Regions from separate parts of the Homo sapiens genome. Here regions 2, 3 and 4 are each linked to region 1. The links come from fine-mapping of genetic effects on plasma protein levels. A gene starts in region 1. Each other region holds a variant in brackets. All regions are shown on one strand. Distances are between the middles of the regions. Region 1 holds the start of CLSTN3 (calsyntenin 3). Region 2 overlaps C1RL-AS1 (C1RL antisense RNA 1). Region 3 overlaps CLSTN3 (calsyntenin 3). Region 4 overlaps C1S (complement C1s).

Region 1 (8,099 bases):
AGGGTGTAAGTCAGAGAGTGACATGATCACATTTATGTTTTAAGTAGACCCTGTGGCTACAGCATGCAGATTAGAGGAGGGTTAAGCGTGAGAACCAGCTGGGTGCAGTGGCTTAGGCCCGTAATCTCAGCATTTGGGAGGCTGAGGCGGGAGAATCACTTGAAGTCAAGAGTTTGAGACCAGCCTGGGCAACACAGTGAGACCCCACCTCTACCAAAAAAAAAAAAACACAAAAACACAAAAAAGCAATTTCAGGCACCAGGAAATGAAGGCCTGAATTAGGGTGGTGATAGAGAAAGGTTAGGAGGGAACACAGGAGAGCCATTTAGAAGAGTGATGCTCAACAGAAATAAAATGGGTCAGGAGCCATATTAGAAAAGTAAAGAGAAATAGGGGAAATTAATTTAAATAATATATTTTAGTTAACCAAAAATATTCAAAATATTATTATTTCGGCATGCAGCCAATATAAACATTTCCGAAATGCTTCTTTTTATTTGGCATTGTCTGAAAGTCCACTTACAGCATCTAGATTTGGACTAGTTATATTTCAAGTATTCAACGGCCATCTGAAGTTAGCAGCTGCTATACTGGGTAATGCAGAAAAGCTACAAAGATTTCTTGGCCGATTAGATGTGGTGGTGGTGGTGGTGGTGGTGTGTGTGTGTGTGTGTGTGTGTGTGTGTGTGTGTGTGTGTGTGTGTGCTGGGAGCCTAGAGGTAAGGAAACAAGAGATATTGACCATGACTCCCAGGTCTCTGGCCTGGCTGGTTATTGCCATTAGTGGAGAGAGTAGATATAAAAGTGGGGTAGGTTTGGATAGGAAGACAGTGAATTTGAATTTGACCTTGGCATTCAAATGGAAATTGGTTCCAGGACCCCCACCTCACTAAATCTGCTGAATAAAATGGCTTAGTATCTGTAGAGAAACTACATACATCCCCCTGTGTACTTTATTATTATCATTTTGATACAGAGTCTTGCTCTGTCACCCAGACTAGAATGCAATGGCATGATCTTGGCTCACTGCAACCTCTGGCTCCCGGGTTCAAGTAATTCTCCTGCCTCAGCCTCCCAAGTAGCTGGGATTACAGGCATGCGCCACCATGCCCGGCTAATTTTTGTACTTTTGTATTTTTTTTTTTTTTTTTTTTTGAGATAGAATTTCGCTCTTGTTGCCCAGGCTGGAGTGCAGTGGTGCGATCTTGGCTCACTGCAACCTCTGCCTCCCAGGTTCAAGTGATTCTTCTGCCTCAGCCTCCTGAGTAGCTGGGATTACAGGCATGCGCCACCATGCCTGCCTAATTTTTTGTATTTTTAGTAGAGATGGGGTTTCTCCATGTTGGTCAGGCTGGTCTCGAACTCTTGACCTCAGGTGATCCGCCCGCCTTGGCCTCCCAAAGTACTGGGATTACAGGTGTGAGCCACTGCACCTGGCCTAATTTATGTATTTTTAGTAGAGATGAGGTTTCACCATGTTGGCCAGGCTGGTCTTGAACTCCTGGCCTCAAGTGATCTGCCTGCCTCAGCCTCCCAAAGTCTTGGGATTATGGGTGTGAGCCACCACGCCCAGCCTTTTCCCATATGCTTTAAATCATCTCTAGATTACTTATAATACCTAATGCAATGTACATGCTCTGTAAATAGTTGCTATACTGTATTGTTTTTTATTTGTATCATTTTGTATTGTTATTTTTTATTTTTATTTTTCCCAAATATTTTTCCATTTGCAGTTTGCTGAAGCTGTGGATGCAGAACCCATGAATATGGAGGGCCAACTGTATTTTGTAGGCAGTTGAAAACATTGCCCTGGAGCTCAGGAGATGGCTCTGGCTGGAGAATTCATGCCAAGGGCAGCCTATAGATGGAAGCAGAAGGCATGGGTGTAGATGATTTAGCCTATGGATAGTGGGCAGACAAAAGGGAGAAGACATTAAGAACAAAACTCTGCGGAGAAAACTCCAGTTTAAAGGATTAATAGGAGGACTAGGATCTGCAAAGGAGGCTAAGAAGGAATATGTAAGAAGTAGAAAGAAATGCAGGAGAGTGAAGTTATTGATGCTAAAGTAAAAGGGACTCTGGGTGACCAACAGTGTCACAGGCTGGAGGGTGGGCAAATGTTTGCTCTTCGGTCTGGGTTGGCCTGTTCTTTGCCCTTTGGGCTGGTGATAAGAGGGGGCAGGGAAGAAGTGGGAGAGAGACAGGGAGCACCAGGACCTGTTAGTTCTGGAGACTGGTATCCTGGGGACTGCATTCCCTGCTGTGGTGACCATTCCCCTCCTCCCCGCTGCTCTGGCTGGGGAAGGTCACTTTGTTTTGCCCCATGTTGTTAGGAGTCTCCTGTGATGCCTCCTTCCGGCCACCGCCCAGCCAGGGGAAATGTACCTGGCATTTTCGTCCGTCCACGCTCCTGAGGTCCTCCTCAAACTCCACTCCCACATCAAACTGCACAGTGTAGTTTCGGAAGGTGCTGAGCGTCCTCACCGTCATGTGGTTGCCCTGGTGTTCGATCTCCTTGTCCGGCTTCAGCAGCAGCGCGATCTTCCGCACAGCCAAGCTGATGTCTGTGGGGGCTGCCTGTTAGTAGGGGTGCTGCTAGCCAGCCAGGAGCTCCTCTGCCTGCAGCAGCCCCTCAGGGCTGTGAGTTTCCCTTCTTTGGGTCTGGGACTGTGGATTCACCCCCTCCTACCAATGCCTGGTTAGAAATGGATCCCAGGTCTGGTGCCAGCCGCCTGAGCCTTTCCACAGTGTCCAACCCCGGGCATTCCCTCTTCTCCATGGGACCAAGAAGCAGGAAGGAAGAGGGGAGAAAGGGAGTGACAGGGGTCTGGGAGGGCGAGGCCATTACTTAGGGCTTGCAGGTAGTCCTCCATGTTCTTCTGCGAGACAAAGCGGTAGTAGCCAGTGAGGTTGGGAGGCATTGTGTGGATGAAGGTTTCAGGAGAATGCAGGAGACAGGGTGAGGAAGGAGGGGGTGTTGTCTGGCAGGTGAGGCTGAGAGATTCCAGCCAGCTCCACACACAGAGACAGGATGTGTAATGGCCGGGTTACCAGGGCTTTTTATAAGGCTGGGGCCCTGTTGCAATAAGAGTCCCTACCAGACTTCTTCCCTCCCCGCATGGTGAGTTTGGGGGTGGTGTCTCCAGCCTGAAGGAGGGGCAGGGATTTGGCAAAGTTGCGCCTGACCTTGGCTTTTCCTGAGGAAGGAACCTGGAGCAGGATCCTTCCTGAGGAAGGAACCTGGAGCAGGATCTGGGGCTGTCAGTCATCCAAAACTCAGCCATCCAAAGGTCAGTGTTGGCCTCCACCTCATTTCTGGCAGGCTTGGGAACCGTCCCAGGGCCTGAGGGGCAGTCTTTCCTGGGAGACACCTGAGGCTGGTCTGGCTGTGTGAGGTGGAGATGAGTTCCAACAATATCCTGAGATCCTGGGACTGAGTGATGTTGGAAGATGTGAGGGGAGGGGGTGAGGATGGCCAGCTGCCACCATGAAGAGCACCCTGTAGGCCTGGCTCTCAGAGCTCCCTCAGGTAGTGTGCTCAACTGGGACCCCAAAGTGGCATTCCAGACTCTTGGTCCTAAAGAGCCATTAGGAGGGAGGTGGAGCCCGAGGGGTGCTGAGTTCAAAGTCCGGAACAGACAGCCTGAGAGGAGTTTGTTGGCTATTCTGGAGAATTTTATTCTTTTTGGCTTGGGACCCAGGGGGTTTTCTCTCCCTCTGAGTCATCGATGAGACCGTAACCCCCAGTCCCCAGCCCTAGGACAGCCCATGCTTTCCAGATGTATTTCTGTGAAGGTGGGGTGGAGGCGCCTAAATAATATTGTGCCCCGCCCCCAGCTGCCCAATTCTCTCTCGAACCTGCCATCGTCCCGGGCTTCAGAATCCACTGGGCTTGGTTCATCATGGTTTAAGGTGAAATTCGGGGCGAAGGAGGCAGGACAGGTAGGCAGGAGGAGGCGGCCGGTCCCGACAGGTGCGTGCGCGAGGGGTGCACGACGTCCTGCCCCTCCTTGGGTCCCAGAGCCTCGATACCGCCCTGCGGACCGCCCTGTGGCTTCCTCGCAGCCCTGGGCTACAAATGCCAGGATTTCTCAGGCTCAGACTGAGGGTTTTACTTCACCCTTCCCAGAGGGCACGCAGCACGGATCTGTGGATGGAAGGGGCTGTGGAAACAGGTTATGGCAGAGTTGGGGGGCGGGGTGACGCGGTGCCACCCCTCCTGGCCGCCCTCAGGTCCCGCTGACGTCTCTCTTCCCCACCCCCTGGCTTCTGGCTTCTTTCTCCCCACGTCCCTCTTCTTTCCCACCCCCTCCGTGGCTCTCCAGCTTCCTCCCCAGCCCCCGCAGTTCCTCGGCTCCCCCAAAATTGCAGCCAGGGGAAGGAGCCTTGAAACTCTCCAGCCCCGACGCCCCAGTCTCATTGGCTCCCTCCCCCGCTGCAGCACCTGGTCCCCCCCCCTCCCAGTCACCTGATTGGCCGGCGGCCCCATCAATCGTTGCCCGGCTGTGCTGACGTCATCCTGCAGTAGCGGGGTTGGGGTGGGAGTGAGAGAGTGAGGACGCTGGGCTGGGGGAAACGGGAAGCCGCTGCAAGTCCACCGCCTCAGCTACCCAGATTGGGATCTGCCCAGGCCCGCTTTATGGACTAGTGTGGGCGGCAGGCTCCTTTCCGTCCCTGCCCTGCTGTACCCCGCTCCTTGGAGACCCCCTGTATCCCTCCCGCAAGGTGGAATCCGCAGGCTGGAGGCTCCCAGGGGAGGCAAACGCCTGGCCCTGCCCTGCCCCACGCCGCACCATGACCCTCCTGCTGCTGCCCCTTCTGCTGGCCTCTCTGCTCGCGTCCTGCTCCTGTAACAAAGGTGAGTGAGGTGGGGGTGGGGGTACCGAAAGAGGGGCGTCGGGCAGCGCCGTGCGGGGTGGGGGTGGGAAGGAGGTGTCGAGGCTCCCTGGCACCTGACAGGTGTCTGGCCCTCTTCTGATCACCCTCCTTCCCATCCGTTCTCAGACCTGCTCCGTCTCCTCTCTTTCTCTTCCCCCAGCTACATCTTCCTTTCTGGTCCATCTCTACCCATGCGTTTCTCTTGCTGGTCATCTTGCTCCCATTTGGTCTCCATTCCCGTCCTGGGGTCTCTATTCTCCCCTTCCCCTAATTTCTACACGCTGGTGGCTACCTCGGGTCTGGGAAGGACTGCCCCCGAGCCGGTGATAGGCCTCTCCCCGCGGCTCTCCCTTTCACTGGCGCATGCTAAGGGTGTGTGGCAGATCCATCTGCTTCGCCTCCATCCCATCCTGGGGAGAAAGTATTTGCTGCAGTTCAGCAATTCGGAGCACGTATGTTTTTTGCGTGTGCCTCTGCATTCAGACCCTTTTGCCTGCATCAGCTGGGCTGTGGGTTACCAGAGCTGCCCTCTCTGGCAGACAGCGGATACATTCAGCTGGGCGGGGCTGTCGGACAGACGGAGAGGGAGGACGGGAGGGAGGGCTTGCGGGCAGAGGGCTCAGGTAGGTGGAAACGGATGGAGACTGGCAGGAAAGGGCAGAAGTGGGTGTGTGGGGGGCGCTAAATGAGTATGAGAGGGAAAGCTGAGAAGGAGAAGACCGGAGATGAGGCGTGGGAGGGGGTAAGGAGGGGATGGAAAAGGGTAAAGGTGGAGGCAGAAAAAAGAGGGAGGAATGAGGAAAATCAGGAAAAGAGTGAGTCAAGGAGGAGCCCGGGAGCCTAGGAGTGAAAGGGAGCAAACGCAGAGACCGCAGGGGGCCAGGAGGAGAGGAGACAGAGGCTCAGAGACCTGGGAAGACAAGCAGGGTGGGAGGGGGAGCTGTGCAGAGGGCGCCCAGCCCTGCCCTTCCACCGCTCTCTCTTCCTTGCCTGCATCTCTGACCTCAGCCTCGCCTCCTAGCCTCCTGCCACTTCCTGTACCGCCTCCTGTGCACCATCTTGTGGCTTTCTCCTCAGCATTCAGGAAGGGGTTATGGTGGTCATCAGTAAGAAAGCCTTCCCATGCCAAAGGCTTGCTGGTGTGTGGTTGGAGGAAAGAATGGAAATCAGGGTTTCTTGCTCACCGTGAGATACTGGGGATGAGGTTCCTTTTGGTGACTCAGTTTCCCTCTGCCTCATGATTGTGCTTTGGGAGCCTGGGTGTTGGCATGATGATGGGATTAGAGCAAGCGTGGAGGCTGGGGTGGGGGGTGATGTGGAAGGGGAGGAAATATGCTTCCCCACAGCCCCTCACCAGGCTGAATCTGGTAGAAGATGGGGAGATTTGGAGTCTGATGAGTCCCGCATCCATTCTGAATTGGCTGGTGGTTGAAGGGAAGAGGGATGGGGTAGATAAGAACTGGGATTGAGTTCTGTATAAAAAGTGGGTTTCAGGGAATGTGGTTTGATGGTCTTGTGGAGGACATAGAAATGTGTCGGTTTCGAATGTGTTCTCTTGGGTGTGGGGGTGGGAAGCAGGGACGGGATTTGTCATGTTTCTAGGCCAGCCCGATAATCCCTTAGGATGACGGCTCTGCTGGGTCCAGTTGCTCAGCATTGATTCCTCTGCTCCATTCCTGCCCCTCTCTGCCCCCTCCCTCTGTCCTATATATCTTCACTTCTCTCCTTTCTCCCCATCCTGTGTTCTGGGAGAGTGGCCTCAAGTTGGGGCTTGGCTGGGAGAAGTGCAGAGTGAAGGGATCAGGACTGAAATGAGTTGGGAGGAGGATAAGCAATCAGGATCTCAGGAAACTTCTAGATCTTTTTCTAGTTTCAATTCTGCCCTTAATCTATCCCTTCCCTTTCCCAGGGCCTTCTCACAGCCCACCACTGCTCCCTGAAGTTCCCTGTCTCCATTCTCTAGCACGTGAAATCGCTAAAGAACATTCTCCACTTCCTGACCATGGTTCCCATGGAGATAGTGATCCCCTCCTCTTCACCCCCAGGGCAGGTTGTTTCCATGGGAACTGTCTACCCTGCTATAGGAGAAGGCTATGACCTCCCGCAGACCCTCTGACTCCTTTAGTAGCTGATTTCTTGTCCTCAACCACCCGCCTCCTGTAAGGTGCTCCTATAGGGGGTGGAAAAGGTGATGGTGCTGGGGTGTGAGTTGTCTGGGTCAACAAGGGTTGTTGTGGGAGTAGAGGCCCTGCTCACAGGTGCTTCCTCTCCTCTCCCTGGGGTGGGGCCAGCCAACAAGCACAAGCCATGGATTGAGGCAGAGTACCAGGGCATCGTCATGGAGAATGACAACACGGTCCTACTGAATCCACCACTCTTTGCCTTGGACAAGGATGCCCCGCTGCGCTATGCAGGTAATTGGGATTGGGGGATGGCAAGGCAGGGTAGGACAGAGAAAAGTGGGTGGGAGGGCCAAGAGCAAGGGAGGGAGGGAAGGTCCTGGGAGTGATGAGAAAGTAAGGGAAGATAAAAGTGGGCTCAAGGAGGGGAATGGTCTCCACTGAAGAATGGAGATTGAGTCAAGGATGCCAGAAAAGGACATGGCCAGGCAAGGGTTAAACACATCATGATTTTGTCAGATCTCAGGTCTGGAGGCTCTGGGAGGTTGCTGCTCAGGGAAGCTGGGCTTAGAGTTGCGTGTTTGATCATTAATGCTTTTGTGCCTACAGGAGAAGGGACAGGGCTTTGGGAGGAGAGGTGGAGCTGGACCCCAGGTGGGGAGACTGAGGGTGGGGAAGGAGACACAGCAGCCTCACTCCTCCCCTTCTCCCCTTTGCCAGGTGAGATCTGCGGCTTCCGGCTCCATGGGTCTGGGGTGCCCTTTGAGGCTGTGATCCTTGACAAGGCGACAGGAGAGGGGCTGATCCGGGCCAAGGAGCCTGTGGACTGCGAGGCCCAGAAGGAACACACCTTCACCATCCAGGCCTATGACTGTGGCGAGGGCCCCGACGGGGCCAACACCAAGAAGTCCCACAAGTGAGGAAGTCCTTGTCTCCTGCCCCATGTGTTGCAGGGTCCTCCTCCCTGCTCCCAAGCCCACCATCCTCTGTCCGTGCGGTCATCGAATATCCACCCCCACCCGCTGCTGTTCCTAGGACTTAGGGAGCCCCATCCCCTGCTGTTCCTAGGATTTAGGGACTTTCAGGCAAGGTGACAGAAAC
Region 2 (8,099 bases), 14 kb before region 1:
CTAGGCTGTGTGCTCCTTATGAGAATCTAATGCCTGGTGACCTGTCACTGTCTCCTATCACCCCTAGATGGGACCGTCTAGTTGCAAGAAAACAAGCTCAGGGCTCCCACTGATTCTACATTACGGTGAGTTGTATAATTATTAATATTTCATTATATATTACAATAACAATAATAATAGAAAGAAAACATGCAATGAATGTAATGTGTTTGAACTATCCTGAAACCATCTCCCTCTGGCCCCATCCCTGGTTTGTGGAAAAACCGTTTTCCATGAAGCCAGTCCCTTGTGCCAAAAAGGGTGGGGACTGCTGGTATAGAGGACAAGGGGGTGGACTCATGGTTACAAGTTTCCTTCATTTCACATGAAGTGGTACAATAGGAACTGAGAAAACTGGAGTTTAGGATGCAGACTAATTCCCAGAGCAGCGGGTCTCCACCCTGTGGTGTGGGAAGACCCACAGGCCCTAAGATCCTTTCACGGGGTCTGTGAGGTAACAAAATGACTTTCATAAAAATACTCAGATGTTCTTTGCTTTTTTCCCTCTCATTCTGTCATGGTATATGGTGGATTTACAGAGGCTACGTGATGTGCAATGATTCATCCGTGGCAGTGAGCGGGATGCGTGCTTGTGTATCTTTGTGATTTAAAATGTTCTCAATTTTGATTTCTAGTACAGTGACTATTAATAGATATACCCTACATAAGCCAAAGCTCTCTGGAGTTCTCAATAATTTTTTAAGGGTATAAAGTTTGAGAACAGTTGCCCTAGGGTGACTACTAGTAGAAAAAAGCAAAGAAGTATAGCTGAAAGGCCGATGTAGAAATGAAAATGGATGTCTGAATTTGGGGGGACTTTTTTCTAATAGGGTAACCTATTAGAAATCATCCTGGTCTGTCTAGAAATGAGGTTTTCCTAGGACATGAGGTTTTCAACACTAAAACCAGTTAAGTTCCCCGACACGCCAGGACAGTTGGTCACCTTATTGCTAACACTTCAATCATTTACTTCAGTTCCCTTTCCCTTACCCAAGTGTCCCTAAAGAGCATAGGCCACCTCTGCTCTATGTTAAGGCCCCCAAGTGCAGGTAAGGGAGCTGGGATTCCTGGCATGCTAAGTAAAGGTAGCAAGCTACCAAATTGTAAGGATACTATGTTTACAAATATAGAAAGCACCCGTGAGAAAAATCTAAAATAACTGCTTCCTATTAGAGTATGGGGTTGTGGATGATTTAAACCATGTTTCTCTGTTTAGTAAAACTTCTTTAATATTATTTAATAACTTTGATAGTTACAAAATAAATGTATCTGAAATTATAATTGTGACCAGATGGTCCTTTCTGAGCCAGACAGGATTAGAGAATGAGGGGATGGATCCTTTAATCGGCATCTTTAATCCACATGATTAATGAAGAAGTTTTTGTCCTTGCATATAAACTTAGGCCAGGCATGGGTCTTTCCAATCTTAGCTGGGCAAACAAGGTTGGGGTGCTCCAGTGACTTTATTTTTGGTTTTATTTTTGAAAATCGTGTTGGTGCTGCCCCCTTCTGTCCTGAAAGGGGAAGGGCAGGACAACAGAAAGTGCCTTGGGGCTTCCTGGCCAGGGAGTTTCTCTGCAGCCTTCATGAGCCCCCAGCATTTAGAGAGGAGCTTGCCCTCTCCTGGAATCCAAACAGCCACAGGAGAGCCCAGGCAGAGGAGTCTGGGGCAGCACGAGCCATTTCTGTCCACAGCTTCCCTGTCTTATCTCTAGATACCTTGCCCTGGGCTGGGACACGTGGGGGCTTTTGTGCCCAGTGCCAGGTGAGGAGGGAGATACAGGAGCGAGGTGAAGAGCAGCAGGGGTGATGAGGCGGCTGAGTCAGCCAGACTGGGACCCTTTGCTTCTGTCTGGCATGGCCAGTGGAGATGTGGACAGCCCAGGGCAGAGGGGTGACCCTAATGGGTCACACTCCTCCACCCCCAAGTTATCTCAGGCTTTCATGTCAGGGCCTTGACTTCCATGCCTTATGGACACCTAGGCAGTCGCTAGCTCAACCCCAATGGAGTGTCAGCCACTAGGTTTAGCCCTTAAGCCCATCCTCCCTACTCTGCCAGTATCTAAAATCTCAATCAATCGTGCCCCTTCCCAGGTTAAAACTTTTCAATGACTGTGCCTCCTGATCCATGAGATGAAGCCCCAGCCACTTGTTTGTCTCGTCAGGTTCTTCCTTCATAATCAGGCTCTGCATGACTTTCTGGCTTCGCTCTCCACCGCTGCCGCCTCGCATGTGTGTTCCAGGCGCGGTCATGATGCTATGGCTTCACAAACATGCCTTGCGTTTGCATGTGTGACTCCCCGACCAATGCCGTGTTCTTCAGTCATCAGCATAACATGCTGCTTAAAGGAGTGGGCTTGTGTGCCACACTCACCAGGTTTAAACCCAGGCTCTACCATTTAAAAGTTTGGTGACCAAGGCCAGCTTACATAATTTCTCTGTGCCTCTTAACATCCTCATCTGAAGAACAAGGATGAGGACAACGGTACCCACACCAGAGGGTTGGTGTGAGGGTTAAATGAGTTAATAACCAGAATTGCTTAGGGCAGTGTCTGTCATTTGGCAAACAATAAATATCATTACTTGCTTAGGAAGCAGAATAGAATAGCAAAATGGTTAGATCAGTGGTACTCAACAAGGAGCAGTTTTGCTCCCCAGGGGATATTTGATGATATCTAGAGATTTCTTTTTTCCATTACTGGCATTTAGTGGATACAGGCCAGTGATGCTGGTAAGCATCCTAGTGCACAAGGCAGCAGGTCCCACAACAAAATGTTACCTGGTCCTGAACGTCAATAGGGGCGAGGTGGAGAAACTGAGGGTTGGGTGGTCAGGCTCCAATCTGTTTGGGTTCAAATCCCATCTCTGTCTTTTATTTCATGTATAACCTTTGGCAAATTACTTAAAATTCTCTGTTCCTTAGTTTTCTTATCTGTAGAATGGGGACAATAACCTGTGCTTGGGTTCCTGAGAAGAGTCAGCGTTCGGCATGTAGTACTCATGCCCTGGATGCCGGCCATTTTTACTCACCTCTCTCCCCGTGTCCTCTCCTCTGGGAAGCCCTCTTTGACTCAGAGAAAATGACTTTCCCTGTGCTCATGGACTCTTGATGCATGATAACCTCCTGCCCGTGTGTCTGTCTTTCCCACAGGGCTGTGGGTTCCTTGAGGGAGGAATTTTGTCCTGCAGGCTGTGGCAGCCCTAGGACTCAGCACATCTAGGTGTCCACCTGCGTCTGTGGGTGAGTTCTTGGGATGGGGCAGAGTGGGGAGTATGCA[C/T]CAGGTTTTGGAGTTTTCAAGGTGTGCAGGGAGGAAGAGAAGCAGGTGGTAGACAGGTGCATCTGGGAGATGGGGTTGGGTAGAGTTTGAGGGTCTGAACACGGCCCTGCCCCATTTACTATTCTCTAGTGAGAAGCCTGATCATTGCCACGTGACCGCCTCCTCACTGTTGGTACCTGGTTGTAGAGAGCAGCTCTGTGAGTAGAAGGAGAAGGATCCTGCCCTGGAGAGGGCCTGGCTGGTCCTCACCTGGGGCCTATCATTTAGTAACAGGGCTTCTGGAAGTGGTAGCAGATCTGGGCCTGGTGGGCATTCTGCTTCTCCTGGGTGGCAGCAGAAGTCCCTAGGTGGCAGGCTGGGGACTGCCCAAAGGTTCTGACTCAGGAAGAGCACAGTGGAACAGAAAGCCCTTGTACCACCTTCGCTGCTGTATTCGTCCATTCTCACACTGCTGTACAGAACTACCTGAGACTGGGGAATTCATGAAGAGAAGAAGTTTAATTGACTCACAGTTCTGCGGGCTTAACAGGAAGCATGACTGGGAGGCCTCAGGAAGCTTATAATCATGGCAGAAGGCGAAGGGGAAGCAAGGACCTTCTTCACATGGCAGCAGGAGAAAGAGAAGAAGGGAGAAGTCTACACACTTTTAAACAACCAGATCTCATGAGAATTCCATCGGGAGACAGCACTAGGGGGATGGCACTAAACCATTAGAAACTGCCCCCATGATCCAATCACCTCTCACCAGGCCCCTCCTCCAACACGTGGGGATTACAATTCCACATGAGATTTGGTTGGGGACATAGAGCCAAATCCTATCAGCTGGTATCCTCCTTTTTCCAGGCTTTAGATATGGCACAACCTGATGGCTTCTGCATAAAGCCTCCTCTCATCTGCATCTCTCCACCTCACTCACCCTCTTTTCAGCAAAGAACCCTCTGGCTCTAGTTTCACTGTGGTGGTCCTGGGAGAGGTAGAGAAGACCCAGAGGCTCCTTACCCTGGGAGGTCAAACTGACCATCCAGGTTTGGCTCTTCCCTGCTGGTGTGTCTAGAACACCATCTTCCCCTTATTGCTGTGGACTTCAGGGCTCTGCTGCTCTGTCCTCCACAGAACTTGTCAATCAGCTTCCTACCAGCTAAGATCTGGTGCTGTCTGATATATCCTCCCTGCGGCTTGTCACTCATGCTGTCTAATGGCGTGAGGTGCATTGAGTTGTATTCTGATGTCTTTGTCCTTTTGAAGCCACAGAGTAAGGTCACACAACTTTGAAACGAGCAGGGTACCATCTGAAGATGCTGGACATTCCTTTTAACAATTACCTAGGGGAGAGGCAGTCCTCAGACAGGACTCAGGTGGGTGGGCCTCAAAGAGGAAGGGAAAGGGGGCAGCTGCCTGCCTCTGAACTTCACTCTCTAGACTCGTGGAAGGGTCTAGCTTAGAGCTAGGATGGGAGGGCTGTGAGCACTGAGGATGGAGTCATGCCTTTTTGTGACTGGACACATTTTTACTGCCCGAAGTCATCTACTGCCCCCACCCCCCAACCCCATTCTTCTGCCCACTTAGCGAATATTGAGGTTATGGTCAGGATGGGGTCATTTGCAATGAAATTCAAGGTTGAGACTATGTTGCAGTTATCTGTCTGCTTGTAAAAAGTCACCCCCACATTTTGTTTAAAACAGCAAGTATGTACTATTTCACACAGTTTCTGTGGGTCAGGAATCCAGAAGCGGCTGAGATGGGTAGTTTAGGATCAGGGTCTCTCACAAGGCTTTGGTCCAGGTGCAGGCTGCAGTCCTCCAGAGGCGGGACTGGGGCTGGAGGTCTGCTTCCAGACGGTCACTCACATGGATGTGGGCAGGCGGCCTCAGTTCCCTGCCACATGGCCCTCCTCATAGGACGCTTGAGTGTCCTCGCGGCATAGCAGCTGGCTTTCCCCAGAGTGACCCAAGGTGGAAAGAACAAGGCAGAGGTGACAGTGTCTTTTATAAGCCAGCCTTGGAAGTGACGTAGCATCATTTCTGCCTTATTCCATTGGTCACACAGACAACCCGATGTGGAAGGAGACATCACAAGGACAGGAATACTGGGAAGCAGGTATTGTTGGTGGCTGTCTCGGACGCTGGTTCTCATAGAAGTAGATGTATTATTTTAGTACAATAAGTGCAGACGATCAGCTAGCAGGATGTTATTTTTGCTGGGTATGGTTGTATTTCAGGTGCATTTACCCAAATCCAGAGTACCTTTGGGGGCTCTGACCCTCTCCTCCTCCACCTTGAGATCTGTAGAGGCCTCTCGTTCATCCCACCAAGAGCAGGACTGGACAGATGAAAGCATGGCTTACAGGAGGCCAACACAATAGGAGGTAGGGCTTTGGGAAGACAGCATAGGTTTCAAAAGAACCAAGAAGCTGTTGAAAAGGAGAGCAGATGGGCAGGGAAGACAAGTCCCAGATAGAATGCCCTTTGCAACCTAGGGGGAGCTGACCACAGTGTGCATCCTGACACTCGAAGACAAGGTCTCCATCAGCAGATTGCCCAACAGAACAAGTTCAGAGCCCAGAGATCCCAGTTCCAGATCTCAGATCTCCCACACCCTGTGGGCTCTGTGTGGACTTTCGTCCTGAAACAAAGTCCTTTAGTAAAGGACTCTTTAAATTCACTCCATCTGTGCTTTGCTTGCCAATAGCAGGGTGCGTCTGTTACATACTGGACTATCCCTTCCTTCAATATGTTCATGGCTGAGGCTGCATTTGTGCCTCAGATAATCAAGGTGAGTATAACTCTCTGTTCTGTTTCCCTTTTGTTTCCTCCAAGACTTTAATAAACCCTCATTCAAGAGGCCCACCTTGTCCCACCTGTGCTTCTCAGAAAAGAAGGAGTGGTGGGGAGACAGGCTGGGGTGGGGGCTTTGCCACCTGGCTGCCCCTTCACCTGTGGGTTCTTGCTCCAATGAGGACCCAGCAGGATAAGCTTTAGTTTCATTAAGGGTGACAATAGTTTCCTTACAGCTGGGTCAAGGATATGAGCGAGCCTCTTCCGAAAACAGCCGGGAAGGGAGAGGAATCCAAGAGGAGGAGCAGGTGGGAAAGACAAGACAGAAGGTGGATCGGGACCAGGCCTGGGAGGGAGCACAGGCACACAGAAGTGAAAGAATTCGCCTGAGGTTACACGACTCCTCGAGCGGTGCCTTTAGCTCTGCATTGTGCCACCTGCCTGGGTCAAGGAAGATGCCACCGCTGTTGTTCTGTGTACAGAGAGGGAAAGGAAGATGCTGGCTCTCAGCAGTTCTATAGAACAGAGGATGGAGAGGCCACACGACAATAGGCACACGCACCGTACATTGAAGAAGTGCATGCAAGACAGAATCGTGTGGGATATGCACACTTGCGTGGAAGAAAAACTGTTCCATTCACATTGAGGTAGACCCTCCATCTATGACTCATCTGTAGGGCAGGGGTGTGGGCACATACTGAGGCATGAATGGAGGGGAAGCTGGAGCTCTGCTGGTGTAGAAAGGCGATGGGATATGCTCGCTTCAGCAGCACATATACTCAAATTGGAAGGATACAGAAGAGATTAGCATGGCCCCTGTGCAAGGATGATATGCAAATTCATGAAGTGTTTTTAAAAATCATTTTAGAAGAAGAAGAAGAAGAGGAGGAGGAGGAGGAGGAAGAAGAAAGATGGTGAGATATCCTGCAGGAGACCAGGGCCAGGAGGGTGGAGGCCTCTCAAGAAGAGGGAAGCATGAGGAAGCTCCAGGGCAGGGTGAGGGCGCTGGTTCCTGTATTCAGCTGTCATAGGGAGGAGGGGAGTAGCTGGGAGGGTTAAGGGAGAGTGGCAGTACCTGCAGCTGGTGGCTGGGGAGTCCAGGTCTGGGATGTGGCCTCTGCTGCTGGTGCCCGGCACCTTGAATGAGATAGCAGTACGTACTGTGGGGGATGGGGGGGGGTCCCAAGGGCTGGGGGGTAGGGGTGGATGGAGCTGATGACTGTGCAGCCATCACTGCAGTGGCACTGGGCTGGGCAGCTGTCCCTGCGTCATCCCTTTTCTCCTGCATTGAAGCCTTCTCTCCATGGGTGGGAAGGCTAGAGTGGCTATTGCAGCAGGGGCTCTGGAGGGCAATGCTGTCCCGGGGAGCCCAGGCACCCTTCTCTGGGGATGGGGGGTGGGGTGCAATGAGAGACTCTGGATATGGATCCCTTAGGGAGGCAACTCCCCTTCATCCTTGTCACCCCCAGATGGTTTACCTGCCTGGACAGCAAGATGATGGCTACACTAGCCCCCATTCTCTGGTATGTGTCACTTACACTTCGGTGTAAATATGTCACTGTGTAACCTCAAGGGTAGTGGCACTTGATGCCTTGTCCTTAACTGAAGAACACAAGGCTTTGCTTCTAGTTAAGAGAATTTCAATCATCAGGTGAAGAGGCAGGGAATAGTGCAAGTAATGATAGCCAGCATCTGTCAGGGCGCACTCCACTCCAGGTCCTCTGCTGAGTGTGCATGCAATCTTCACAAAATTCCCAGCAGGAAGGAAATACTCTTGGTGTTGCCTTGTGGGCTGGCCAATGTGGCTCATCTGCTGAAGGCTGGCGATTTGTATATACTCCTGCAGCTAGTAATAGGTGGCATTTCATGCCTGGCCACTATGCAGCACTGCCTCCCAATTTTGGGTGGCATTTTAGGTTCCTCTAGAGCCTCTGAGGCAAGTGATTTGTCCATGAACCCAATGGCCTGGCTATGCTGGTGACCTTCTGCTTGGGCACTGCCCACGGGG
Region 3 (8,099 bases), 28 kb after region 1:
CCTCCAGTGGCACGGAGGCCCATTGCTCTAAATCTCCTAAGTGCACTAGAGAAAGAGAGATGAATGTGAACTGGAACCAGGGTAAACTGGAACAGTCAGGGGAGATTTTGTGGCACATGTAGAGTTTGCATTTGGACCTGAACTGTAAAAGGGATTTTTGGATGGGTGTGAGAGAGAATGGGAATTTGAGAACCGGGGGTAGATAGGTGGTTAAGAGTGTTTATGGTTAGAGAGAATAAGGTTGGTTGAGAAGAGCAAGCCGGATGATGAGGGTATTATGTATCTACTCATATCAAATTTTGATGACTGCCAGAATCACCTGGGGAGCTTTAAAAACTCTCGGCACCTAAATTATACCCTAGAATGTCTAGGGGGTGGGAGCCACGTGTCAGTGGTTTTTAAAAATCCCATGTAATCTTTAAAAGTTTGGGAATAATTTTCCTCTTTTGTTTCCTACAAGTATCTGAAGCTTTGCAGAAAGAGTTACAAAGCAATAGGACAAAAAGAAAATGAATGAGGAAGTAAGGAGGAACAGGTAATGATGAAATAAGGATCCAATGAAGCCAGGGAATAAAGTCAGCTCATAACATGCGTACTATGAGATGCTATGCAGTTGCTACCACGGGCCAGAATTTTGACCCTGAGCTTCTTCAAAGCTAAAGCAAAAGGAAACCTGAGCAGTTCTGAGAGCCGTGATAGGAGCCAAACGCTATTTCATGAAAAGCCCTGGGAGTGCGGGGGGCAGAAAGAAATCTCTCCCAAGGCTCTTTGCAAAGAGAGCACCGTGTGGGGCCATGGACAGGGCTTTCCACTGTCCTCGCAATCCCATGGACCATTTGCTAAGTCACCCCTTAATGTTGGCTCTGGAGGTCATTCAAGGCCAGAATTAACTGCTCAGATCTCATGTAGCAAGAAAAGCTGAACGCACTTCTTAAATTCTTGATTTTTATCTGTAGCTGATTTAAAAATCCTCCCATCTCCCCGGGCTCCTGACTCATCTTAAACTAATTAACCAGACTTGTTTGCTTGTAGATAGAGTGTCTGCATTTTGTCTTTCCTGTGGTCATTTCTTATTGTCCTGGCAATCAACTTGTCATTTCCTTCATTAGGCCAGGAGCTCGGAGGGACACTGCATTGATTAGGGCGCAAACCAGCTTTAGCTCGTCATCGTTGTGTGCTTAGAGGAAGTTCACCTGCTTTGGCCTCCACTCTGAGGGTGGGGTCACCACCCCTTCTGGAGCCTGGGCTTAGCCACTGGGCCCATCTGCCAGTGAAGGCACTGCCCCTGGCTCTGGTCTGTTGACGTGGAGACCTGAGAGACACTATTTCCTGCAGATGGGCAGGAGAGACAGCTCTGTCCCCTCCTCCCTTATCCCCCGTTCCCAGGAAGTTGAGAAATACTGATCCAGCCAGTCCTGTCTTCACCTTGGAACCAGTGTCGAGGGAGTGTGCCCCAGCAGAGTCCGTTCTAATTGGCTGGTGGCCTCAAGTGGGCTGTGGGTCAGGATGGGGACCAACTTGGCAGACAGCCATCAGGGTGGCCTCAGGGAGGTGTGTGGCCTGCCCAGGCAGGGCATTCTCCACACACCTAGTTGGCCCTGGAGTGCGTGGCAGCTGAGTGTGCTGGCTGCTGGGGAGAGGGGCGCTGCAGCAGGGTGTGGGTGTGAGTGTGAGGAGCTCCTGGGCCATGCGCTTCCCTACGCTCTGCTCTGTCTGTTGACACATGAGTCTCAGGCTGTAGGTAATTTGCGGACGGGGCTGGAATGCGATGTGTGTATTTTTCTAGGGGCTTGCTTGTGTGACTGCTGGTCTCTGTGTGTGTTTGGGGCACACATACATGGAATAGTCCCTCAGCAACGGGACCGCCCAGGGAGGAGCTGCTGTGTATGCATGGTGGGCAGGGGTGTGCACCCATGTGGGGAGTAGTGACCCAGCTGCCCGTAAGGGCCCTGGGCCTGGAGGTGCGTGTGTGGGGTCTCTGCCTCCACCTGCTGTCCCTGGGGCTGCGGGCTTTCCTGCTTTTCTTCCTTGTGCTTCTTCGAGAGCTGTGTGTGTGTGTGCAGGAGGCAGGCAGGGCTGTGCTCATGGCGGCTCGCTCTGTGGCCCTCACGGCCCACGTCTGTAGTGTCTATGTCTTCCTTCAGGGGGTTGCCTGGTCTGCCCAGCTGGTGGGGAGCTGGGTGATGCTGCACATATGGCTCTACCGTGCCTTGCTGGAGACCCCCAGACGCGTTCCTTTACTCCCGCAGTGTGAGCAGGCGGCCAGGTGGCTGGTGTGGGCCAGCATGCAGGCTGGCAAAGGCCTGGCTCGGGTGTGGGGCGTGGCAACCTTTGTGCAGCTGTGTGCCCACACGGTCTTCCTGAGCATGTACCTGTGCATGCACATCTGCTTTGCCGCCATCAGCTCTAAGGTCCGTGTGAGAGTGAACGCACCGTTCTGTGTCTCAGTGCCCTTGAAGGTCCATGCCCCTCTGAGCCTGGGCATCAAAGTGGGGCTGCAGGGCCAGAAGCATGGGAGAGCCACGGGGGAGGCAGGTATGCCTCAGGGGGAGATGTTGGGGAAGCAGGAACCCCAGACGTCCCGGAGCCCCAAGCCCACCAGGAGAAGGGAGGTGTCACGGAGTGAGCTCAGTCCAGGTGGGTAAGGGAAGGGGCTGCTCTGTGCCCCTTGGACTTGTCCCCAGCCTCAGGTGCTAGTGCCCTCTTCCTGCAGCCAGCCCAGGCCTGGAGCCTGCATCTCCTCCTGCTCAGCCAAGCCCGTGTGGGGGCCCCTCCTCTCCCTCACTGGGCACTGGCACCTCTTTCCTAGGCTGAGTGGTCTCTGGGGAAGGCACAGGTGGAATGACAGGGGCAGATTCCAGTCCTTGCCCTCTGTCCTCTGCGAATAGGGCTGTTCATGACAGTGTTGGGCAGGGAGTCTTTTTCCTCCTCTGCCCTTGCCTCTCTGTACACCTGCCTCCCTCTGTGTTTGTTCCTTTGCCTTGCAGCAGCTCCCTTCCTCCCCTTTCGTCTCCTGCCCTTCCTGGTGGGCTGTTTCTCTTCTGGCTTCTCCAGGTGTTCCTCTCTTCTCGGCCACCGTGTGTTCTGCCCTGGGAGTCCTTCAGCCCGGGCTGCCTCTTTTCCTACCCAGCCCCCTGTCCAAGTGCCCCCAGGTGTGCCTAGTCACGCTCTGCTCACCCCCGCGCTCTCTCTGCAGTGATACCCAGCGCCGCAACCCTCATCATTGTGGTGTGCGTGGGCTTCCTGGTGCTCATGGTCGTCCTGGGCCTGGTGCGCATCCATTCCCTTCACCGCCGCGTCTCAGGGGCCGGCGGGCCTCCAGGGGCCTCCAGTGACCCCAAGGACCCAGACCTCTTCTGGGATGACTCAGCTCTCACCATCATTGTGAACCCCATGGAGGTGAGAGGCCTGGGGAAGCGGGGTTCTGTAGGGTCAAGACTGTGGAGCACACACGGTGAGGACTCCTGAGGAGGGGCAGGCCTGGGTGGAGGCTGTTCGCAGAGCTGCAGTGAGCCGGAGGGAGAGAGGTTCAGGCAGGGAAGGGGGTACACAGGGGTTAAGGGGACCGAGGGAAGTGTGGTCCCTGAAAGAGAGGCTGGGATGTGTGCAGGCCATTGATCCCTTCTCCTCTCTGTTCCTGCCCTCCAGTCCTACCAGAATCGGCAGTCCTGTGTGACGGGGGCTGTTGGGGGCCAGCAGGAGGATGAGGACAGCAGTGACTCGGAGGTGGCCGATTCCCCCAGCAGCGACGAGAGACGCATCATCGAGACCCCCCCACACCGCTACTAAGGCCTACACCTCTCCCCACGCAGAGGGGGAATTCTGCCCTGGTGAAACAGACACTCCAGACATGGGAGAAGGACTTTCTGGGAACACAGAGACCAAGAGGGAGAGAGGCTTCAGAACCAGTCCTCCTTTCATTTCAAAACCCCAGCGGGCCCTCTGGAGTCCGCCCTGCCCCTCCCCCGGCCCCCCATCCCTCACTTCTGGGCTGTCATGCTCCTGGTGTGCCCCTTGCACTGGGGCTGGCTGGGTTGGAAAGTGGGCTGGACTTCAGCTGCCTTTCTACCCCCAATGGCAGCTGCCCCCTTAGCACTCACTGTGTTGGGGAGAGGGTGACGATTGCAATGGCTGGGGCTGGGGCTGGGGGTGGGATTGAAGGAAACCCTCTCCTCTCCCCTTCCCTTCTCTCTCCTGTCCATGGGAAGCTTTTCCCCCTCTGCAGGGCTCCCTCAGCTGGACCATCGTCCCTGCTTCTCTTATGATCGCCCCACCTCATTTCCATTTCAGTCTGGGGACCCCATTTCTCCCTCCTTTCCAACTTCCTTCCTTTCTTGTCCTGTTTCCCTTCCTGCCCTTGCAGTCCTGAGGTCCTGCAGCCCCGGCCCCTCCTCCGTGACCTGGTGTGGCCAGGCTGCGGGGACGGGAGGGGACGTGGGGGCCCCGGGTGTACATATATAATGTATATTTTTTCAATGTTGTCGTGAGTGCAGCCCATGTTCCTGCGTGCAGCTCACGGCCTTGTGTGTATGTGTGTGTGTGTGTGTGTGTGAGGCATCGTCATGTCCTGGGGCAGGGGCGGGGGGTTGGGTGTGGTGAGGGAGGGGACATATCCTAGGGTTTTCAAATAAAACAATCAGAAAAAAAAAAAAAGCTCTGTGAGGCGCCTCCTGACTGCCTGGTCCTGTGTGGGTGTGGTGGAGGCTCTGGGGCCTCAGGGGCTGTTTGGGTCTCTGCACAGAGCTGAAGTGAGGTGGGCAGGGCTGGTGATCTTGGGGGCCTGACCAGGTAAGTCCCCAGGATGCCAGATCACCTGGAAAGTAAGCTGGGGGCAGATGGTTCCCACGCCTCCCTTCCTTCAGCACCCCCTGGAAAAGTACAGAAGATTCAGGGAATGCTATGGACACCTGGGCAGATGCCCAGTGCCTTGCAGGGGTGCTGCCAACCCCGCCCCACAACTTGGAACATTTTGCCTGTGCACATGGGCTCCCTGC[T/TGGGA]GGGCGGCCCCAGGGAGAAGGCAGGCAACCCTGCTGTTTGTACCAAAGGGATCTGGAGACTGTTCCCAGGCTGACCCTTTCCTGCTAGCCAAGGCTCAGACCCAGGGGATGTCTGCCTGCCTTGCCCATGTCCTTGTGGCTGCCTCACATGGCTGCTTAGTGGCCTCCGCCCTCTCCACTCGGGCCCAGCCCCTGGCCTGACAGCAGGCAGAGTCTGGCCCTTCTGCAGCCTTTTGGGCCACTAGTTCTCTGACCCAGGTCTTACTTAAGCCCCAGGTGATAAAGGATGATAACCCCAAGGGGTTATTTCAGAAGAGTGAACTGCTGGTGGGAGCATCCCTCTGGTGCTGTCCTGGCCCAAGAAATACCAGGGATCCAAGTCTTAGTTCCTTCCTGCAGCATGACAGAGTAGGGCATCCTTAGGCTCTTCCTGGTTCTCTGCGGCTGCCTGTAGCACAGTTGGGGTGGAGGTGGGTGCTCCGCCTGACGCCCGTTCTGACATCCACCGGGTGCCTTGTCCTTGCCCATGGCCGCAAACTCCCAGTTGCATGTTGATGCCTCCATATTTTTATCTCCCACCTGAATCTCTCTCCTAACTCACATTTGCAACTACCTATTGGCATATCCACCTGCCCTTCCTGTGCCTCAGACTCCACCTTTCCCCGACTTCTCTGTGACCTATCCCTATCACCTTTCACCCATTCGCCTATGCCAGAAATCTGAGAGTCAGTCTAGATTCCTCCCTCTCCCTCAACCCCATGGCCAAATGGTGATGAAACCCTGTCGTTCTTACCCCTTAAAAATCTCTCCAATAGGTCTTTTGCTTTCTATTCCCCTTATTGCTGCCGCCGCCTTGACCTGTACCCTCTGTGTTTTTGCCTGGTCTGTGGCAAGAGCCTCCCACCTGCCTCCCACCTGCCTCCCACCTGTCCTCCCACCTGTCCTCCCACCTCTCCTCCCACCTGCCTCCCACCTGTCCTCCCGCCTGCCTCCCACCTGCCTCCCACCTCTCCTCCCACCTGCCTCCCACCTGTCCTCCCACCTGCCTCCCACCTGCCTCCCACCTGCCTCGCACCTGCCTTCCACCTGTCCTCGTCTCCTATGCCTTGCTCTACTCCACCCCGTCCTCAACTCTGGATCTCAGTGGCCTTTCTCAAGTGCAACTCTGGTTGGACCACTCTCCGGTAGAGCAACTTTCCTACCTCCTTGTCAGGCCTAGGTCAAGTCCTGACGCCTTAGCCCCTTAACCAGGTGGGGCAGGTCCTGCCTTCCTCCTTCTCTGGCCTCTTTGCGGCCACCACCCCTGCACCCCTGCGGTGGGGTCACAGAAATCACATATGCTTCCCACACACACCCTGCTTTCTCGCCTCTGTGTCTGCATGTACTGTTCCCTCTGCCTGGCATGTCCCTTACCCATTGTGTGCCTGGCAGTCTTCTACTATCACTGAAGACCCGGTTCAAGAGTTGCCTCTACCAGGAGTTCTGCTGTGCTCTGGGAGCCCTTATTCACGCCTCCATGATGGTATTGACTACAAAGCTGAGGGACATGTCTGTCTCTCCACAGATTCTCTGTATCCCCAGCAACTTGCACAGGGCCTGGCACACAGTAGGGGCTCAGTCAGTGGTGACTGAGGTGATGTGTATGGCTCTCAGACTCAGGGAAGACTCACTGGTAGGAAGAGAGAGGAGAGCTCCGTTGGTGGCCCATGGCATGGGAGGTCCAAGGCTGAGCATGGCCAAGCAGACGCCCTGTAGTGGCCTCTCCTGTAGTCTAGGTCTGCCTAGATGCCAAGCTGATGTTCTGGGGTCTGAGGCAATACTGCATAGGAGACCGCCTTGCCTGTCTACCTAGAGTCTTCCAGAGGCTCAAAAGGTCACAGACTTCAGACATCTGAGAGCTTTGGCTCTCAAAGGGGCTTGAGAGTTTTTATTAATAGTTTGTGGTCCTGAATTTCAGTGGGTGAAGTTCAGCCCCCTCCTCCTTCTTGTCATCGTCTTAGTCCTCACCTACCCTGTCTCGGAGATGCAGCTTCCCATGAAGAGGAGCAGAAGCCAAGCAGGTTCTATTATTTTTGTGTGTGTCCTTGACACTTGAGGCTCGGGGGTCCTTATTCACTTCTAGCTCAAGTCTCAGGGATAGGGGCTGTGGGTAAGAAGGCAAGCTTGCCATGAACTCTGCTTCCCTCTTGATGCACACGCCCCTGCAGACTGCCACAAAGTAGCATATGTCCTTCTCTTAGTGTCTGCCCAGCCTCGGCCTGACTCTTGGCCTTCCTGGATCAGCTGCCTCTGGGGCTGGACATGGGTTTTTCTCTTAAATGCAACCACTCTACCTGAGATTCCTGGAAACTCTCCAGAATCAGAAGCCCTCACCTCTGATTATTTCTTCTGGTGTAACCTTTCCCGGCCCTCCTCTTCACCCTCAGTGTTTGATGCCCAAGTCTTGGCCCATGGTTAGCACATCTCCCCATGTGACTACTGGGCCCATCGAGATGTTACCTGGGGTGGGGGTATACATGGGCACCAGAGGCCTGGGGAAGACCATGAATTCCTTGTGCCACCACATGCCCTGAACTTCTGCTGTCACTCGCTGACTTCCCTCCCTCTCTCAATCTCTGCCTGTCTCTGACACACACACTCGCACACACACTAAACAGGGATCAGGCTTGAGGCAGGAGGCCAGCTCCAGTGACGCAGGGAAAGGGCAGCAGGCAGGATTCTGCATGGGTTTTTATTTTGTTGCTCAAGATCTCCTGGAAAGATGTTTCCTAACCTCCCTCAAAGAAGCTGGCAAAGCCTGGGGCTATCAGGCCCGGGGCAGGGTTTCCAATTCACCTATTCCCAATTTCATTTGAAACAGCAAACACATTTGCCTTGGCATCACTCAAACCGTTCTTTCTGCAATGGAAGGCTGTTTTCCTCTCAAGTCTACTCTCCGCAATGACAATTAATTAGCTTCTCTAAAGGTGCATGATGAAAAGCATGCCCTCGGGGAAAAGCGATGCTCTAGAGGCAACTGGGTTAACCACCAGTTCAAGAACAAAGTGTGTCCTTCTTCCTGTTACCAAACCAGAGTCCTGGAAACTCGCTTTTGTGCCGTCAGAG
Region 4 (8,099 bases), 58 kb before region 1:
GGTGGATAGCATAATCTGTGCCAGAGACAGAGTTTGGAGACAAATGAAGGCGATAGGACAGACATTGTTCATCCCCTTGGCTTCGTCCAAAGATACAGTTTTCATCTGGAGCAGGGCAAGTTCAGGGGAGCATCAGCCTCAGGGAATCATAGAGGTCACCAACTGAGTTCACAGCTGCAGCAGGAATTCCCCTACAACATCCATTTCATGGGATTACCCACCTTTTGACCAGTTATTTCATGTAAAACCCACAGGAGCAATGCCTTCAGCTTTAAGCCACCAAACTACACTGACTGGCTTTCTTGATGTAGAGGCTTTGGTCATGCTAGGTGCAGGGCTGAATGAGACCCTAATACGTTCTCTGCATTGCTCTGTATTTATTTCGCCACTTTCCCGATGCCTTCTTTCCTTCTGCTTTGGAGATGTTCCCTTTGTCTCCCTGGCAGGCTAGAGGCCTGAGGGATTGTTTGGAGGAAGATATTTTTTTTCTGGCTGATTTAATCTGATTTACTACTTGAATCCTAGACGAGCTGAGGTTCTGAAGGAACGGGGCAGGGTGTTGGGGTCGGAGGGGGGAATGGAAGAAGGAAGATGTGGTGGTGAGTGTGGCCTGTGTTCTCTGTGCTATTCCAGGGGAGTATCACTGTGCTGGTAACGGGAGCTGGGTGAATGAGGTGCTGGGCCCGGAGCTGCCGAAATGTGTTCCAGGTAAGGAGGGCTGAGGCTTGGGGAGAGATGATAGCCATGGGTGACTGGGAGTCACCTTCTGAAAGCAACTGTAATCCTCTTGGGAAAGGACTGAACAGTGACCTGCCAGAGTCCAGCTCAGTGAGGTGGCAGTATCACTGTGCCGTGGGCTGCCAGGGCCGTGGGGAACCTCCTCAGCCGCACTGAAGCCAGGCCAACTGGAAGGAAATAGAAACGTCAGCCAGCGACAGTTGGTGTCTGGTAATGTAGCTGCAGTGAGAAGATACAGAACTGCTAAAAACAGGGCCTGAAAGCTGAGAGTGTGTGAGTAATCAACACTCAGAAACAAGTCTAGCTAAATAGCCTAGTTATTATATTAAAAGTTTATAGGGCAGCAAGATATAGAGGAATTCAAAGAATGAGGAAGATAAGAGTTGGGTAGCAGAAGGCTGAGGCAAATCCAATAGGATAATAACCATCCTGGGTGGTACTGAAAGCTGAAGACTGAGCTGATTTGTTGCATTTATTATCTCATTCGTGTCCGTATAACAGCCCTGTGAGCTAGGTGTCATTGGTCTTATCTGACCAATGTCAAATGTGAATGGGTGGGGTGCAAGTTCACAGAGTTAGCAAGTGGCAAAGGCAGGCTTTGAGCCCAGGTCTGTCTAAGTTCACAGCCCATTGTGCTCAACTTGGAGTCCCTCCAGGCTGTCTAGTAAGGGATTTAAGTAAGCAGCTTCACTTGAATTCAGTTATTAGTATAACTGAATGGTAATGGCACCAGTCACTGGGAGTGAGAGGTCAGGGCCAAAGAAGGGACCCCTCTCTACTTCCTAGGCTGACCTGTGGTTTACTAGGAGGGACTCAGGTGCAACTAGGACTCCAGTAAAGAAGGTGATTAAAGTTTGATCTGGGCATCTGAAGAAGGCAGAAATCTTTCCTCCTCCACCATCTGTGTGAGAAAAGGGTTTCCAGCACTGGCTCTTGATTGGGCACCGGCCTCATGTGCCGAGTTGGGAGGTGCAAAGGGGACCCCTGCCTCCAGGGGGGCTGTGGGTCGCACTGTGGATAGTGTGAGGCATTAGTGCATCTGGACTCAGTGATTCACACACTGCCTCCGTTTAACTGAGCTCTCCCATGAGCCAGCTTATGACATCGGCAAAGCGGGATGTTTAGGTAAGGCCAGAGTGGGTCAGGTATTGAGATTGTTGACCAAATAGGGTTGACTATTTTGTACTAGAGAATCCTGCAACCTAGCAGGTAACATTATGTGAGTGGTTGGAGGATTTGCAGGAAGCCAGCATCATTTCTTCCTCCTTCCCTGTGTTGTTTTATTCCTTCCTAGTCTGTGGAGTCCCCAGAGAACCCTTTGAAGAAAAACAGAGGATAATTGGAGGATCCGATGCAGATATTAAAAACTTCCCCTGGCAAGTCTTCTTTGACAACCCATGGGCTGGTGGAGCGCTCATTAATGAGTACTGGGTGCTGACGGCTGCTCATGTTGTGGAGGGAAACAGGGAGCCAACAATGTATGTTGGGTCCACCTCAGTGCAGACCTCACGGCTGGCAAAATCCAAGATGCTCACTCCTGAGCATGTGTTTATTCATCCGGGATGGAAGCTGCTGGAAGTCCCAGAAGGACGAACCAATTTTGATAATGACATTGCACTGGTGCGGCTGAAAGACCCAGTGAAAATGGGACCCACCGTCTCTCCCATCTGCCTACCAGGCACCTCTTCCGACTACAACCTCATGGATGGGGACCTGGGACTGATCTCAGGCTGGGGCCGAACAGAGAAGAGAGATCGTGCTGTTCGCCTCAAGGCGGCAAGGTTACCTGTAGCTCCTTTAAGAAAATGCAAAGAAGTGAAAGTGGAGAAACCCACAGCAGATGCAGAGGCCTATGTTTTCACTCCTAACATGATCTGTGCTGGAGGAGAGAAGGGCATGGATAGCTGTAAAGGGGACAGTGGTGGGGCCTTTGCTGTACAGGATCCCAATGACAAGACCAAATTCTACGCAGCTGGCCTGGTGTCCTGGGGGCCCCAGTGTGGGACCTATGGGCTCTACACACGGGTAAAGAACTATGTTGACTGGATAATGAAGACTATGCAGGAAAATAGCACCCCCCGTGAGGACTAATCCAGATACATCCCACCAGCCTCTCCAAGGGTGGTGACCAATGCATTACCTTCTGTTCCTTATGATATTCTCATTATTTCATCATGACTGAAAGAAGACACGAGCGAATGATTTAAATAGAACTTGATTGTTGAGACGCCTTGCTAGAGGTAGAGTTTGATCATAGAATTGTGCTGGTCATACATTTGTGGTCTGACTCCTTGGGGTCCTTTCCCCGGAGTACCTATTGTAGATAACACTATGGGTGGGGCACTCCTTTCTTGCACTATTCCACAGGGATACCTTAATTCTTTGTTTCCTCTTTACCTGTTCAAAATTCCATTTACTTGATCATTCTCAGTATCCACTGTCTATGTACAATAAAGGATGTTTATAAGCAAATTTTGTGTGACTTACCTCATTCCACACCAAACCCTCAGAATTATAGAAGGGGAATGGGATGAGAAGGCTGTTATGTCACTGAAATTGGGCATCCAGCAACTAATATTTAATTTAATTGTCACGAAAACAGGGAATTCAGCTTTTCTTCTCTCTTCCAAATGAGATTTACTGAATATTGTGGGTTAGTATGAAGATCGCCAGTGTAAGGCATCACATTCTGCTTTTGAAACTCATTAATATTTACCTGGCCAAAAAAAAAAAAAAAAAAAAAAGAAGAAAAGAAAAATAAGAAAAAAAAGAAGCTCATTAAATGTCATGTGGTGCGTGGCTCACACCTGTGATCCCAACACTTTGGGAGGCA[G/A]GGGTGGGAGGATTGCTTGAGCCCAGGGATTCAAGACCAGTGTGAGCAACATAGGGAGACCCTGTCTCTACAAAAATAAAAAATAAAAATTAGCTAGGCATGATGGTGCGTGCCTTAGTCCCAGCTACTCAGGAGGCTGAGTTGGGAGGATCGCTTGAGCCCAGGAGGTCAAGGTTGCAGTGATCATGCCACTGTACTCCAGCCTGGGCAACCAGAGTGAGACATTATCTGGAACAAAGCAAAATAAAAAAACCCCACCTCATTCAGAAATCCATGTACAATAGTTTGAGTTGGCTGTTTAAGATCTTCTTTAAGTAGAAATTGTTTCAATATGTGAACGGAAAGTTAATTTTCCTCTAATACTCATTGTATCATGCAATATTATGACAACAAAAAAGAAAAACTAAAGAAATTGAGCATGCTCTTGTCTGCTTTCCTGGTGGTTTTAATCAATTTGTGACAATGTTTTCATTAGACTGAACTCTGTACCAAGATGACATAGCAGAAAATCTCGGTAAGGATGGACCCCAAAACTCTCCCTTCTATTTTCTAGGGGAAGGAAAAGAAAAGATTCCTCTTCCAAAAGAATGATTAGTGATGAGAAATGACTACAGAATAGAGACTTAGCATTTTAAAAACTGAGGACAGGACAACTATCTTAGGACAGCGGTTGCCCTAACAGGGCGTCTTAGGAAAGCGGAGGTCTGAGAGGAAGAGCTGAGGGGGAATCTGACCTATTTGATGTGACACGTGGCTTTCAGGAGGGCAGTTTTTACTAGAAGCCAAAAAAGGTTGGTTTGGGCCCATCAAGAATGGACTTTGATATTCCATAGACCAAGAGGGCTAAATTCAACAGTTGACCTTAGACCGCAGGGTAAACGTGATGAGGTAACCAGAGGAACTCTAATTGAAGGGCCTGAAGAATTGAAGGGAATTACAACAGGGAGTCCCTGGGAGGATTATATGGTCAACCAAGCAGCATAAAGTCACTGTGTCACTCCTGAACTGTATGCCTCATAGCCACCTCCTCACCCTTCCTGTCATTGCAGGAGCAATGGAGTTGACAGTGTGCCCTGGGTGAGAGTGTTTCCGTGAGAGGAGGATTCTTCTAGAGATAAAAAGGCATTGGAGGAATATTAAGATTTAGAAACATGGTCTGTGAAAGGGATATTGTTCTTCTTTTTTTATACTTGGGGCAATAGCAAAAAATTAACCTGGAATCTGACAAGTAACAGAAAAAGGAAGTTCATCCCTCTCGGAGAATCACCAGTCTATTTGGGTTCTGCCCTTGCTGATGGGCTGAGGTATTGGTGAAGAATTTCCCTCTTTGCTGCCACCTTGTACGGCATGACGGGAATGGGCTTTGCATCGTTGACTGTGCTGCAAGGTCATTTCTCTGGGTGAATGGCAGGGAGAAGACCTAAATGAATCATGATCAGAGACTTCAGAGCTGGGAAGAGCTTGTCATCAGGTCCTAGAGGGGCTAGAAAGTCATTCATTGTGTTTAAAGGGTATCCATCGTAGTACCTTGCAAGTTACTTGGGAACATATGTCCGCTTCATCTGAAACTCAGGAAAAGAGTTAGCTTTTTGAAGAAGGTGAATTGTCACTTTTCTTTGGTCAGAAGAAAATGGACTGGTGGGTCAGCAACTCATGCCAGGGAGGAAAGACAATGTCCGGTGGTCAAGAGGGCTTGAACCTACTTGAAACTGGACCAGCCCAGAAGGGGCTAGAAGGGATCCTGGGACTCTAAAGTTTCCTTTACAGTGACTGCTAGAATCAGAAACATATTCAGTGGAAATGTGACTTTTTTCCTGCATATTGGTTATTATTTTAAAAATTGAAAATATGATGTGAGGCGTGGTGACTCACACCTGTAATCCCAGCACTTTGGGAGGCCAGGGAGGATGGATCACATGAGGTCAGGAGTTTGAGAGCAGCCTGACCAACACAGTGAAACCTTGTCTCTACTAAAAATACAAAAATTAGCCAGGTGTGGTGGCAGGTGCTTGTAATCCCAGCTACTCGGGAGGCTGAGGCAGGAGAATCGCTTGAACCTGGTATTGCAGTGAGCCGAGATGGCACCACTGCATTCCAGCCTGGGCAGCAGAGTGAGATTCCGTCTCACACACACACACACACACACACACACACACACACACACACACACGGACACAACACAGCTTTATTTAATCTTGATCAGATCCACAAACTCTGCCATGGTTTTTAAAATAATGATTTAACAAAACCCTTTTTCTTTTGACATATTCACAAGAAGTTGCAAAGTTAGTACAGAGAGGCGCTATTTCCCCTAATGGCTACATCTTAGGTAACTACAGTACAATATCTAAACCAGGAAACTCATGTTGGTACAATGTGCAAGGGCAGTTTTGTGTTATTTTACTACATTGGAGACTCATGTGAGCACCTCTGCAGTCAAGATACGAAACAATTCCATCACTACCAAGATTTCCCTCTTGCTACGTTTTGTACTCACATCCTTTTTTATTTTCTCTTACAATCATAAAAAGACACATTGGAAAGATCCAGCTTCTCTCATTTGTCCTAAGAGGAAATTGATTTTGGGTATGTCCACCCTTGAACCAGAGAAAAGCAGAGACTGGACATATTGAGGGAGATGAAGTTGTGGTAACAGGAACCACAACGGGGGAACCCCCCCCCCCCAGAGCAAAACCTACAGGGAAAGTCTCTGATGGACCTAGTTTCCTGAATGGAAGCATCTGTTTTAAAAAAAATCTCTCTTCCTCTATAAGGGACTACAAAGAACACAGAAGACCTGCAGCTGCCAGGAAGGAGCTCATTCTGATTGTAACCATTGTGTTCTGCCTCATCTCCAAATGGGCTGTTTGCATTGTGTATCTATCTCCCTTTAGGTTTAATGTGGAAACAAATCATTTCTTTTGTCTTCATTGCTTAAGGACTGAGTGTGAAATATTTTTGGCATAATATGCTCAGGTTTTTCTGGGCATCTGCCTATTCATGGATAAAATGAAAATGTTTCTTGATCTCTCTTAGACAGAAAGCAAGAAGAACTTAAGGTTTTTAACAGAAAAAATAAAAGAGGATGGCTAGAATAAAAATCCACAGAAATAGGGCCGGGCGCTATGGCTCATGCCTATAATCCCAGCACTTTGGGAGGCCGAGGCGGGCGGATCATGAGGTCGGGAGATTGAGATCATCTTGGCTAACACGGTGAAACCCCGTCTCTACTAAAAATACAAAATTAGCCGGGCGTCATGGCGGGCACCTGTAGTCCCAGCTATTCAGCAAGCTGAGGCAGAAGAATCATTTGAACCTGGGAGGCAGAGGTTGCAGTGAGCCTAGATCACGCCACCGCACTCCAGCCTGCGTGACAGAGCGAGCCTCTGTCTCAAAAAAAAAAAAATCACAGAAATAAAAATTCACAGAATAAAAATGCACGGAAGCAGGGATGAAAGCAAAAAAAGCACCTGAGCACCTAGTTGGGGGAGAAGTCAGGACAGCAGAGAAGAATCCTGGGGCCACTGCAGGTGAGTGTGTCAGATCTGAGTAGGACTGAAGAAGACCTAAAAGGGAGAATTTGGCCTTCTCATAGGGCCAAGCAGAGGCCGGTTGTGTGGGGCAGGGCTGACCCCAAAAGGCTTGACAGAGACCCCCGAGGAGAGGTTTTGGAAAACACTGAACACCTAGGTTGGACCTAGATGAACTTTACCTGCTCTGCCACATAATTGTGATACAATTTATGTAGAATTTTTTTCCAGCAATTTACGAAGTTGTCTCGAGTTTGCCTTAAGTGGCCCTAAGCCTTTCAGGTCTCTTTTCCCGGTCCTTGGTGGCTTGCCTCCGTTTTGGTGTCCTGTGTTGTCCTCACTGTCATCATCTATCCTCTGAAAATATGATTTTTTTTTCCTGCATGCCTGTTATTTTCCTTCCTTCCTTCCTTCCCTTCCCTTCTTCCCTCCCTCCTTCTGTTCCTTCCTCTCTCTCTCTCTCTCTTTCTTTTAGACGGGGTCGCACTCTGTTGCCCACGCTGGAGTACAGTGGCATAATGACAGCTTACTGTAGCCCCAAACTCCTGGGTTTAAGGAGTCCTCCCACCTCAGCCTCCTGAGACACTGAGACTACAGTCATGCACTACCACACCTGGCTAATTTTTAATTTTTTTGTAGAGACAGGGTCTCGCTATGTTGCCCAGGCTGGTCTTGAACTCTTGGCCTCAAGCAATCTTCTCTCCATGGTCTCCCAAAGTGATGGGATTGTAGGGATGAGCCACCACATCTGGCTCTTCTTTGGTTTCAATATGCTCACTTGACGTAATAAAACCCTGCTTCCTGTGTGCCTGAATGGTACGGCTGCTAGTGGCTAGGGGAAAACACACAAGCTCACACAACTGTCTCAAAAAAGGTGAGAATGTCTCACAAAAGAACAACTGTCTCCCTTTTAACTGTTGGCCATGAATCTCAAATGAACCCTTCATGCTCCCAGGCAATCAAAATTCCCTAATCCATTCTCAATCCCACTGTCCCAG

The links. PIP is the chance, under the fine-mapping model, that this variant and not a neighbour inherited with it causes the effect. Protein levels are from antibody-based Olink assays in UK Biobank. Linkage for the fine-mapping came from a reference panel and not from the study's own genotypes, which makes the PIPs less certain.
Region 2: its variant is fine-mapped to the plasma level of the CLSTN3 protein (UK Biobank, PIP above 0.99).
Region 3: its variant is fine-mapped to the plasma level of the CLSTN3 protein (UK Biobank, PIP 0.97).
Region 4: its variant is fine-mapped to the plasma level of the CLSTN3 protein (UK Biobank, PIP above 0.99).

Annotation. Positions count from the first base shown.
Region 1 is chr12:7,125,855-7,133,953 of GRCh38, forward strand. It overlaps CLSTN3 (calsyntenin 3), which reads left to right and starts at 4,517. Exons shown (of 18, transcript NM_014718.4): 1 at 4,517-4,858; 2 at 7,170-7,292; 3 at 7,719-7,914. The coding sequence starts at 4,795. It overlaps RBP5 (retinol binding protein 5), which reads right to left and starts at 3,035. Exons shown (of 4, transcript NM_031491.4): 1 at 2,849-3,035; 2 at 2,386-2,564. The coding sequence starts at 2,921. RefSeq lists silencers at 4,274-4,373, 5,464-5,533 and an enhancer at 4,815-5,316.
Region 2 is chr12:7,111,940-7,120,038 of GRCh38, forward strand. C1RL-AS1 (C1RL antisense RNA 1) reads left to right here. Exons shown (of 12, transcript NR_026947.1): 6 at 68-125; 7 at 3,191-3,280; 8 at 3,447-6,738; 9 at 6,960-7,087; 10 at 7,561-7,614. It also overlaps a transcript of RBP5 not described here and the pseudogene RNU6-485P. Among named protein-coding and RNA genes, the nearest start is that of C1RL, 6.8 kb to the left of the region's middle. RefSeq lists an enhancer at 1,328-1,829. The variant C/T (reference allele first, on the strand shown) is at 3,318.
Region 3 is chr12:7,154,293-7,162,391 of GRCh38, forward strand. CLSTN3 (calsyntenin 3) reads left to right here. Exons shown (of 18, transcript NM_014718.4): 17 at 3,197-3,399; 18 at 3,649-4,653. The coding sequence ends at 3,789. Among named protein-coding and RNA genes, the nearest start is that of CLSTN3, 28 kb to the left of the region's middle. The variant T/TGGGA (reference allele first, on the strand shown) is at 4,995.
Region 4 is chr12:7,067,823-7,075,921 of GRCh38, forward strand. It overlaps C1S (complement C1s), which reads left to right. Exons shown (of 12, transcript NM_001734.5): 11 at 634-708; 12 at 2,033-3,210. The coding sequence ends at 2,829. Among named protein-coding and RNA genes, the nearest start is that of C1S, 11 kb to the left of the region's middle. The variant G/A (reference allele first, on the strand shown) is at 3,572.